Linked DNA regions of Homo sapiens. The protein of the gene in region 1 purifies or fractionates together with the protein of each later gene. This does not show direct contact. Each region holds a gene or a part of one and is shown on either strand. Other genes may lie near its edges. The genes, in order: EBF2, BPIFB2 and ALDH1A1.

Region 1 (3,750 bases):
CCCAGTCCCTGGATCCCGGGGCCTGTGCAGAGACGGTCCGTGCACCCGCCCCGCAAACTCCCTAACCCCCTATCCGTTTTCAAGCGAATCTCCGCAGTTCGGACCAGCACTTCCTAGTCGCAATCCCGCGCACGCAGCGTGGTGCCGCGGTTTGTCCCTTGGGGAGGTGGAGGCGCGCACCGGTCCCTTTCTCGAGAGAGCCGAGTTTTCTTGAAGTGCAAGCTTCCTGTCAGCCTAGGCAAACCAGTTGCAAGGCGCTGTGTCCTCTAGCGGCAAACTCTAGCAGTTCATTTGCGAGCGCTCACCTACACCTAAGGGATCTGGTCTCTCAAATCTGAGACCCAAGAGGGGAGAAAGTGCCCTGAACGCAGTCCAGGCGCTCGCAAATGCCCTCCCCGTAATGAGACCGGGAGACTGGGGCGCAATCGCTCGAACTACGAACAGCTGATTGTCTCCTCCACGGCAGATGGTCTTTGAGCACAGATTTGCATTCATTGTCTTCAAATCTGTTTTCGCGCTGGTGTTCTAGATTTCAGCAGCAGCAGATCTATGCGCAGATCAGAATACAAAAGGAGAAGCAAGAAAATGACACCCAGCCAGGAGGATGTTTAATAGGCACCGCGAGCAGCCCCGCGCAGTTAAAAAACCGTCTAGGGTTTCAGCTGTTCGGTGAGGCTGCTGCCACCGCCTGCCGGCCACCAGCCCGCGGCCAGCACCGCGGCGACCGCGCGCGGTGGGCGAAGTTTCCACGACTCCCCCGTCCCTCCCCGCCCACTACCGGGGGCTTCGGGAACGGAGAGGTGGGGAGGGAACCGGAGGACCCGCGGGAATACTCCCCGGCCGCTCGCGCACTCAGCCCGCCTCGATCTGTCAGCAACCTCTCCTCCACACGGGTGCGACTGCCGCTCGCGCCCGCCCGCCCGCGGGTGTTTTCCTTAGGTCCTGGACCGTTTTCCCCAGCACTGTATTTGAGCAGCACTTGCCCCTCGCTTGTCCGCCCCACCCCATCCCCCGCCTTCTTTCATATGTTCTCCACTCTCAGCAACGTGCAAGCCGCACACAACATCTGATATCACCATGGAACTCCAGGAGACCTGGGGAGCCATTCAGGGAGCTGGGTGCTCTGGGGGACGTTTGCGCAAAACATAAGCACATGTGGCCACGCTCACAAGCATGCACACAGATCCGAACCCCGGGAACGAACGTGCCTCCCGGCAGGCTACAAAAGCCTACATCTAGAGGCAGGATCCAGGGAGGCTTCCCGCAGCCAGGCCGAACCCCTGCGTCCCCAGCCCGCAGAGACCTGCTACCCTAAGTCAGTGCAGGGTGTGGGGGCCCCCCAATCCTGCGCAAGCACACGGGGTTCGTGCTAGGACTCGACGCCCGCAGCTTTCTGTCCCCTTTCACCTCCCGGAGTCCCGGCAACGCAGAGCGTGGCGCGCGCCGCCGGAGGACGTCGGCCCGGCTTGCCAGGCGCCGGCCAATCCCGCGCGTCCATGCAAATGAGGCTCCTTATCGGGCCGCAGCTCCGCCTCCCGCAGCCAGGGCCGTAGTAACCCATTCATGGGGCCCGCGCGCGGCTGCAGCCGGGCTCCGTGGCGCTCGCAGCCACCGCCTCCTCTCGGCTCCAGGTCTTCCCCTTCTTTTTACAACTGATCCTGTTGGGGATTTTTTTTTTTTCTAAATTGGAACGGTGGGGAGGAGCAGGGAGGGGGGACCTGGAGGAAGGGGAGAGATTAGGCAGCCATCAATTTCCTCCAGTTTCTCCCAGAACAGGTGATGCTTCTAAATTGTGATCACTTTCAGGAGGCAGCACTGCAGCTGGAAGGATGCGAGCGACCTAGGGTGGAGTGGCTGAGGCGGCAGATCTGAACTTGCGGAGGATAAGAACCCAAACTTTGACTACATCAGTCCGCACCTCGCCAGTGAAGCAAAGGACGGGTTATCTTTTTTTTTTTTCTAAGACTCAAACTTGGGCACTTGATCCCTTTTCTTGGATTGCTTTGGAGGAGACGATTTGCTGGCAACGTTGGGAACAGTCAGGACTGTGTTGTAACTCTTACTTTTAAAGCGACAGTAGAGGATCAGACTTTTTAAATGTTTGGAATTCAAGATACTTTAGGAAGAGGACCAACTCTGAAAGAGAAATCGCTGGGCGCGGAGATGGATTCGGTCAGGTCCTGGGTCCGGAATGTCGGAGTGGTGGACGCTAATGTCGCCGCGCAGAGGTAACGACACGGCCGCGCAATTATTATGCTGTCTCTCGCTCTTACGGTCTGTCTCTCCGTGTGCACCCCCCCCGCGCACCCCGTGCCTTTCTCTCTCCCTGTCCCCCCATCTGTCGCCCAGGCCCTGCGCGCTGGGGCTCGCCCTCGGGCAAGCAGATCGCTGCAGTCAGGCGAACGCTCACCCGGCAGCCGGCACTCGAGTTCCTGAACTGCCTGGGTCGTAGGCGTTTCTCTCCCTCTCCTTTACCACAGTCCACTCTTTGCAAGGAAAAATAAAGTAGCCCCCAACATCTCCCAGCTCAGCCCCTAGTCCTGCAAGCCGAGCCGGCCTGGCCCCGAACGGAGCGTGAACACCGGCGCTGGCAGTGGCGGCGCGGGAGGAAAGCCGGCTTCCTGGCCACTCTTGGCTTCGCCACGCCGCCTGCGAGCGCCTACCTCCCGCATCTTGCTGGGCGATTCCTGGAGCCTGGGAGGCCGGCGGCCAGAGGGTGGCGGCGGCGAGGGGAGCGGGAAAAGCCGGAGCGGCTGCCCGGGAAGACGAGGCGGCCGGGAGCTCTGGGAGGGGGGACAGGCTGGAGGGTCCCGGCTCAAAGATAAAACAGTGAGCCAGACGAACGGAGCTAGGGAACTGGAGAAAAGAAGAGATTTAAAAGAAGAGAAAATACTGAGTCACAGTAGAAAGAGTTGCGGAAGAAGAAAGAGGCGAGAAAAGGCCACCAGCAGCTAGACTGGCTCAGGGATCGCCAGCCTCTGGTTTTGCGGATCCCTGAAGTTGACTTTGTGTTTAGGCGTCTGCGTGCTGGGATAGTAAATACCATGTCCGGGGTGCCACCCTACGAAGACATTACGGTCCCACTCTCTCATCACCACTACTGAGTTGGGATTTGTGGCCTCCAGGTCCTTGTCTGCGAGAGAGGCAGCCCTTCTACCCCCAAAGAGCCGATGAACTTCTTCCACTACCCTCGCTTCCCCTGCTGCCCTCCTGGCCACCCACATTTAAGTGCCAACATCACACGGAGAAATGATCCCTTTCCCAAACTGGCCAGGTGTCCCGGGTAGAGCGAACCGGCCTCTACCCTTGGAGCGGAGAAAGCAGAAGTTTTATCGCTCCGGGACTTGGGCCGGCGGCGGTTCCCTCCCTCCTGTGGCCCGGGGAGCGCGGATTTCCCTCCGGCAGACCGCACAGCGCGGCGGCCGCGGCTTTCCGCAGCGCTTCGGGACTGGCCCGCCTGCGAGCTAAGGGAAATAAGGCAGCACCGCAGAGCCAACTGTGCCGCGCATTTCCTTAGCTGGGCTCCTTAAAGACGCCTCCCTCGCTTTCCTTCCTTCCCGGGATCAAAAAGTTTGTTGAAGCTGGAAGGAGCAGACTTAGTGGGGGAGAGCTTAGCCAAAATGTTACCCCTTTCAAAAGAGTGAATGAAGGTGCTTGCGCACCGGGGTTCAACCTGGGAGACCCCAGCGCCGCAGGGCAGCTCCCGCAATCTGTGCGTTCACCTCAGCCCCAAGTCTTCGGTGAAATGGG
Region 2 (3,750 bases), on another chromosome or scaffold:
TGGCTCTTGTGCTGGAAATATTTAAGAAAAGGAAGTGTCCAGGCCAACAGCAAACACCAAGAGTGGGTTTGGTCAATATTTGCGCCTCTGTCCACTGAGTCTGCTGTTTGCATCAGCTATGGTGAGGGCGCAGGAGGGGCCGGTCTTGGGCATTGGTGGACAGACCAAGGCCAGGAGCAGGGTGTCAGGGAGCTCACAGCAGGCTCTTCTCATTCCTCTTTGCGTCTAGAATAGGGGCAAGGGAGCACTGGTTGGGAGGCAGGGCTGGTTCAAGTGAGCTCCAGCTGCTCAGGGGAGGGCTTGATGGTGTCTGTGGTCAGCTTTGTAGACACTGGTGGAGGCCTAGCACAGGGTGGGCCTGGGAGCTGGGCCTGATATTTGGGCTGGTGTGGGGTCAGTGGGAGTCAAAGAGTGCCCTGGAGTTGGGGAAAGGCCCCAAGTCATCCTGTGCCAATGAAGAAAAATGGAAAGGCCATCGCCTGCTGTGCACACATATATGCACACACACAAGAACATATATACATGTACCTCCCCATCCCAGGAAACAGTCCACTTGCATACACACATGCACCTAACACCACACACTCACAGACCCACAAACACTCAGTAGGCCAAGCCCACACATGCATACATGTACACAAAACTCCCCACCTCTGTGGTCCTGTTGGATTGTGTGAATAGACACACAACACCATAAACCAAGATGCCAACGTGCCCATTTCATGTCCACACTCACACATAAGAGCACACATTTTCCCCGTACATGTGACTATGCACACACACTCACATGCATGTATCAACACAACCCTCATCCACACATGTGCATATGCAAATTCCTTCATGCGCACACACAGTTCCTTGGGTCCCATCCAGCCAAGGCGGAGGCTGACGTTTGTAATGTGGAAAGAGACCGTGGACTAATCCATTGTGAGTGGAATGTGCATTTGGAGAGAGGCTGGGATGTTAAGCTGTGGGGACAGGTCACGCACACTTTCTCTTCTGTTCCCTTCTGAGTTAGGGCTCAGTTTGTGACTGGGATCAGGGCTCAGCATGTGATCAGGGTCAGAGCTCAGTAACTGGGGTCAGGACTCAGTGTGTGAATATGTGACAGGGTCAGGGCTCAGTCAATGACTGAGGATGGTGCTCAGGTAGCCTTCTGCCCCTCCTAAAAGGGTCATGTTTCCGAGAGAGCTTGGAGGTACCAGGCTTGAGGGGTCATTGCAGCCATCCCCTTGCCTATGGGAGGGGGGATGGGGTCCTCATGGGCCCCATCCTCCCAGGCCTTGGCTGGGCATGATAAGATACCCTCCTAGAAGCAGCTTTCCTTCCAGAGATCTCCTGGCCCTCACTAAGGCCATAGCTGCCTAGCCCCAGGGGCTTGTAGTGGTTGGGAGCTGGGCCTGGCTACTGGCTACGTGGCAGCCCCAGCGCACATGTGGGATGAGACACTTTGGCAAAGGCCATGTTTGCAGGGAAAACACTTGCAACCACAAGCAAACTCGCCGCTCCCTGGGTCCCTTCCCAGTGGACTCTGCACATTGGGAGCCTTATAAAGTAGCCTCTGCATCTGCCTGCCTCGGGCAGAGGAGGGCTACCCTGGGGCTGAGAGTTCACCTGTCTCAGGAACCACCTGAGGTAGGCATGGGGCTGGGCTGGTACACCACTTCCAAGGAGGCTTGGCTTCTCTATCTGTTCAGTGGGGATGCTACCTCCAGCCACCCTCTGCAGAAGGGTCCTTCCACCCCTGGCCTTGCTGTAGGACCTGGGCAAGTGCCGCCATCCTGGGTCTCAGCAGACCCACCTGAGCCGCAGTCCCTCACTCCTGCCTGGCTCCCTCTCCCTGAGTCAGACACAGATCTGCCTATTTGGCCAGACTGAGTCAGGAGAGGATGGGGGCCATGTGAGAGGCCTACTCTTAGGCCATTTACCACCTGGCCAGGAGGGGATGAGGACAGGAGCCACCCTGGGTCCTCCCCTGGCTGAATTTGGTGGACAGCTGGACACCAAGCTGGCTGTCACACGGGGCTGGACTCCGGCATCAGGTGATACAGTCCTGGGCATCTTCTTGGGACAGGAAACTACCCTCAGTCTCCCCGTTTGGGAGTCTCACCATCCTTCTATGCCATGGCTTGGGTCCTGCACCTGGTCCCAGTCCACTGTGTGGCCCTAGGCAAGACCATTTCTTCTCTGGGCATTGCGGGTCATTTCCAGAAGGGACTCCCCCATGATTCCTGATGAAGCAAGCAAGGCAAGGTGATGGTTCCCAATGCAGAGATGCAAAAACTGATGTCTGTGGGCCTGGGGCAGGGCTGGGATCACCAGTCAGGGCTTGTTCCCTCCAGGCTGGAGTGGGGTTCGGGTGGCTCAGGGGTGGGCTGTTTTGGCTGAGCTCCCTGATGCTCATTTCTACCCCAGCCCACAGATCCTGTGGGCAGCGGCCAGGGCAGCCATGGCTTGGGCAAGTAGGCTGGGCCTGCTGCTGGCACTGCTGCTGCCCGTGGTCGGTGCCTCCACGCCAGGCACCGTGGTCCGACTCAACAAGGCAGCATTGAGCTACGGTAAGCGGTGTGTTACCCAGTGAGTGTCTGTGAGCCTGTACATGCGTGTGCAATCCTAAGTGTGTGTGCGTAGCTGTGAACTCAAAAGGCCCATGAGGACCCAGATTTTAATTGGAAGTTGTGTCCCTGGCACCCAGACAGTGCCTGACACATGGCGCTGCTCAACAAATGCTTATTACATAAATGCGTGAGGGGGGAGTACGTCATGTGGCCAGTGTGCAAGTGTGCACATGTGACTTGCTCACATGCTTTGGTGATGTGGGCATAGGTCGGTTTGAGGGGCTATTTTTACCTGTGTGTGTCTACTTATGAGTTTGAAATTTCATAGAGCTGTGCCCACGTGTGTACTTAAGTGTCGGGGAGGGTGCAAGCCCATGATGCTGCCTGGATGTGTGTGCACAGGTACGGCTGTTCACCCTGGGTGTACACGTTTGCGTATGTGGTGTGTGCACGCACGTGTGTTCTTGGGAGAGGTCTGTCTAGCACCGTGATGCAAGGAGTGTTCTAAAGTTATATCCCTTCTGAGCTCAGCGTGAGAGAACCATCCGCTCTCTGGGTCCCACTTGTGCGAGGGCTCTGTCTTACGGCTGTGCTGCTAGATCCTTCCAAGTCTTGCCCCAATCCCCTAAGGAGGGCACAATGAAGAAACTTAGCCCCAGGGAGGGACAGACATTGCCAAGGTCCAGGACGCCAGCACAAACATGTTTATTCACCTCGAGTTGCCTCCCGGTGAGAATTTGGTTTCCCACCAAAGCCAGGAGATCAGAAGCGGTTTCCCCCAAGGCCAAACTCAGATTACAGTGTGAGAAAGTCAGGTCAGACAGTAGATGGGACCTTCAGTGGCCCAGGACATGAAGCAGTGGCTCAGGGAAGTAGCAGGTTTCCCCCACCCCTGGGTAAACACAGCCTTCCGGGACCTCATATCCGGGCTGATGGGCAGGCAATGAAAGGGGTCAGTGATCCGTGCCAGAGCATGACATGGAGCCATTCATGGATGCCTGCAGGTAGGGCCATGAGGCCCGCGCCCTCCGCCGCCTTCCTGCCCTCTGCCCATCCTGTGCAAGCCTCCTTTGTCCCCAGGGAGCCCTCCCCAGCTTGCCTGCCTGTGTTTGTTTTTGGCAGAAATCTGGCTGGAGGCCCACGCTGGACGCATTGCTCCCCAGGCTGGGCTGAGTGGCTACTTCCAGTGTCC
Region 3 (3,650 bases), on another chromosome or scaffold:
TATGTTCTGCTTTGTGTTAATGTTAGATATCTACATATCAGCCCATAAAATTCCAAACAAAAAACTAAAGATATTGCGATACCTGCCGTAGACTTTTAAATCAGTCTTTCAAAACCTGCATCAGATTTATTCACTTGGGAATTCTGCCTTCTCTCTGCCTAAAGATTGTATTACCACCTTAGATTTTGTACCTGTAAACTAAGGGAACACAGATTTCATTTTGGCAGAGATCCAGAATTTCACCCTTCTACAATGTAATTTCATTAAAAATAAAATAAAACAACATACAGAATCAATTACATTTTGCTAGGCCTGTGGTCGGACTTTCTAGTTCTCGCCCGAGTCCTCTTATCCTTAGGTCTGTGATAATCTGTGGTTTCAAGTTCTCAATAATATGCTCTCAATATATTATAGCTTATTTTACTCTCTTTACACACTTTTTTGTAAAAGAATTATTACAGTATGTATGTACCATCTAGTTCCATGATCAGAATTTGCATCTAAGCTGTACATAAAACTGCCACTTTAGATTAAAGCCAGTGAATGTTTTGTAAATGAGCATTAACCTGAAGTAATAACACATGTTTATCTGGCAGCCTGCAGGCAACTGAAGAGATCAGCTGTAGAGGACCCCAAATTACCAGCACTGTTCTGCATTATTCAGTTTTAACCTTTAAGACAGGAGGACACTGTGAGCCCAACTTGTGTTTGAACTTGTGTTGACATTTATATAATCATGATTAGTAACTTTTGCTTTATCAGAAAAGTGTTTGTCCAATAATGAGTAAATACTTGAGACATAGTCTGGCAGTTATTGTGGAAAAATGAGAGATGAGTTAGCCATGGCCTCTGCTCTCAGGGGCTTATAATCTAAGAGGAGAATGTATTCATATCAAGAGCCGCCAGTACAGAATTAAAGACTGTGGAGCAAAATGGCCAAAGCAGCGGTGTTGTCAATAAATGGTGTAGAGGGGCATAGGCTGAAAGAATGCTTCTTTGAAGGATGGAACTGGATTGGTGGAAAGAAGGAAAAAAAAAGAGTAAAGGGAGGGACAAATCTTTGGAGGTTTGTAACACAGTAAACAGAGCAGCTCCCAACAGAATGGAGTTGCAGTGGACATAAGTCACAGATAAGGCCTGACATTGAAAATAAAGTCAATTTGTGGCAGATCCTGATCCCCAGAGAAAGAAGTTTAGGCTCTATTCTGGATATAAAAAGGGAGAGAGACCAGATCAAATGGATGTTTAGGAATACTGATTTTAAAGTATCCCAAGTAGATTTGAAGTAGACCAACCAGAGTCCAAGAAATTAGCCTTGAGACTAATTTCATAATCCTATCATAAGGTCACAGGCTTTTGAAGGAGAGTGATGTAACAGTGCAGTCTACAAATTATGAATTATGCCATTCTCCCACAAACAGAGGCGTTTCAGCATGAAAAGGGAATTTGGCATAGGTAATGTGATGACCTAGATGGTTAGAAGGCCAGGTATTGCCCAGTCTTTTTCTTCCCCTTAGCTACAGATAATTTATTCATAGGGCCTACCTCAAATACATTTTTTTTCTGTTTTAATTATAGGAGCTTTACATTGGGCATTTGCCTTCCAGCTAACTGTGTGACCAAACGTTTTTGTATAATCACTGTTCCTATAGTTATATTAATGGTTATATGGAGAAGTCTAGGCTAATGAATGTTTGTTATAATAATTATAAAATTTACATTAGGCTTGTTTAATGTTCTATAATGGTGACAATATTATTTTCCATTTGTTTTTTGCCTTTAGCCAGCTTAGAGGAAAAGAGATGATACTATAAAAGTAAAATATTCTTGGGTTCTATGTAACCATTATATATTAACTCAATTCTAATTATGAATTTTGGACTTAGGTGACTTTTGAATAATATATATGTAAAGTAGACATCAACCTTCTGTTTGAAATATTGATTGGAAATTATAAATGCCTATGCATACTCTTGGACTTCAAGTACTTTCTATATGGGGAAGCAATCAATAGAAATGTTGAGGCAACTTAGAAATGGATTTTTACACTTCAGATTTTAGATATGCCACATTTTAAGAAATGCATCATTTTACCTTTGATAAACAAGTAGCCATTTCCTGGATTCAACTGGTGTCCAAGAATTAGTCATAATTGTGAAAAAAATTGCCTTTCCAGAGTAAAAGTTATTATGTCTTAATGTATTGTGTATAAATCTACAGTTCTAAATAAATAAGCATAATTTTCTCAAAATATTTCTGGCTTGGATAAAGCTAGTTTTGACTAGTGGCAAAATAAAGCCCTATTTGCCTTATCTGCTGATATGAGATTTTGGAGTCTGTGGGCTAAAGTGGGGAGCCCCTGACTCCTTGCAAAAGATACTCAGAGTGCCTTAAATTAATATTATCTCGGCAGGGCAGCAACTGGGCCAGCAGCCCTAGAGTCTGTAAAGGAAGGCAATACTTTCTTGGTGGGAGAGAGATTTTAAGAGATCACATTTTCAATGCACAAAGAATTTCTTTTAAGATTTTCCAAACGAGAGGGAGGGTGATGAGAGTCCCCATTTAATGTCATCCATGTGAATTTTCAAACTTGAGAACTGAGTCACAGCATAGGCTGCATGGGTGGTGGTGTGAACCTGTGGAGACTGGTGTGTGCTGTAAATGTGTCAACCTTTTCTCAGCTTAGGAACCTACCAAAGTACTAAAGGCCGCTGGGAGTCAGGGAGTATGAGATCGGAGATGAATAATGAGGAGGAGAGACTGAACAAAAGTCAGGTGGGGTGTTAAACATTTAAAAGAATCAAAGCTGGATCTCTGGCAACTGCTTTGCACCCTAACCCTGAGGCAGGAAAGCAAAATGTTGAGACTCAAAGTTAGAAAATGTAAAAGGAAATTAAGGAGGAAATAACAAAGGGAAAGAAAATTTTTAACTGTCATCAAATGAATGAAAACAAAATGACAGAATGACGAAAACAAAAAATAGGAGAAATAAAATTTTCCTTTCATTTGTTTTAAATGATAGTCTGACTTTAGTAACGTGAGTATATACTCTTTTTTCTTGTTGTTTGCAAAACCCCATCAGCCTTTTCAATTGTGTCAGGGAAAGAGAAAAGATGCCACAGCATTTGTTTTGAGCCACTCCATCACTGTGTCCTAGAGATGATAACAAAACTTGTCAGCAACTTCTGTACATCATATATTTTCTGTATCAGAGTTAAGATGTAGAAGCGATAGAAAGTTCTGCCCATTTTTAGCAGTATCAAGACCTAGTAATAGAATTGCTCGCATGTAAGCCCTCTTCCTTCTAAAAGAATGCCAAATATAAAGCATAATTCAGTAGTTATTTGTATTCCTTTGACATCTAAAAAAGTATCGATAGAGCAGTGGAAATAGTCAGTGGAAATGGGACCAGGGTTGGGGGAGGGAACGGTTCAGGCAAAGTTTTTAGAGATGTGAGATTTGTGCAAATTCCCCAGTGAACAAATTTCCATTAGTAAGTCAAACGTTACAATGAATCAGGTAGAGATAATATCAGAAAACCCAATATTAGCAACACTTCACATCCTTCTCAAGCAATGCTTCTAAGTTTGTGGATACTTTTGCTATATACATCTATACACCCAAAACATGTCAGCGTCAGGAAAACCAGT

Evidence for each region.
Region 2: the proteins of EBF2 (region 1) and BPIFB2 purify together in Homo sapiens (affinity purification with mass spectrometry; one large-scale study listed by BioGRID and IntAct). This does not show direct contact.
Region 3: the proteins of EBF2 (region 1) and ALDH1A1 purify together in Homo sapiens (affinity purification with mass spectrometry; one large-scale study listed by BioGRID and IntAct). This does not show direct contact.

Annotation. Positions count from the first base shown.
Region 1 is NC_000008.11:26,043,207-26,046,956, reverse strand, and holds the start of EBF2 (transcription factor COE2), read left to right. Parts: upstream 1-1,543; 5' UTR 1,544-2,097; coding exon 2,098-2,228; intron 2,229-3,750. UniProt on the Homo sapiens protein: Transcription factor that, in osteoblasts, activates the decoy receptor for RANKL, TNFRSF11B, which in turn regulates osteoclast differentiation. Acts in synergy with the Wnt-responsive LEF1/CTNNB1 pathway.
Region 2 is NC_000020.11:33,006,126-33,009,875, forward strand, and holds the start of BPIFB2 (BPI fold-containing family B member 2 precursor), read left to right. Parts: upstream 1-1,578; 5' UTR 1,579-1,635; intron 1,636-2,415; 5' UTR 2,416-2,449; coding exon 2,450-2,558; intron 2,559-3,750.
Region 3 is NC_000009.12:72,942,922-72,946,571, forward strand, and holds part of ALDH1A1 (aldehyde dehydrogenase 1A1), read right to left. Parts: intron 1-3,650. UniProt on the Homo sapiens protein: Cytosolic dehydrogenase that catalyzes the irreversible oxidation of a wide range of aldehydes to their corresponding carboxylic acid.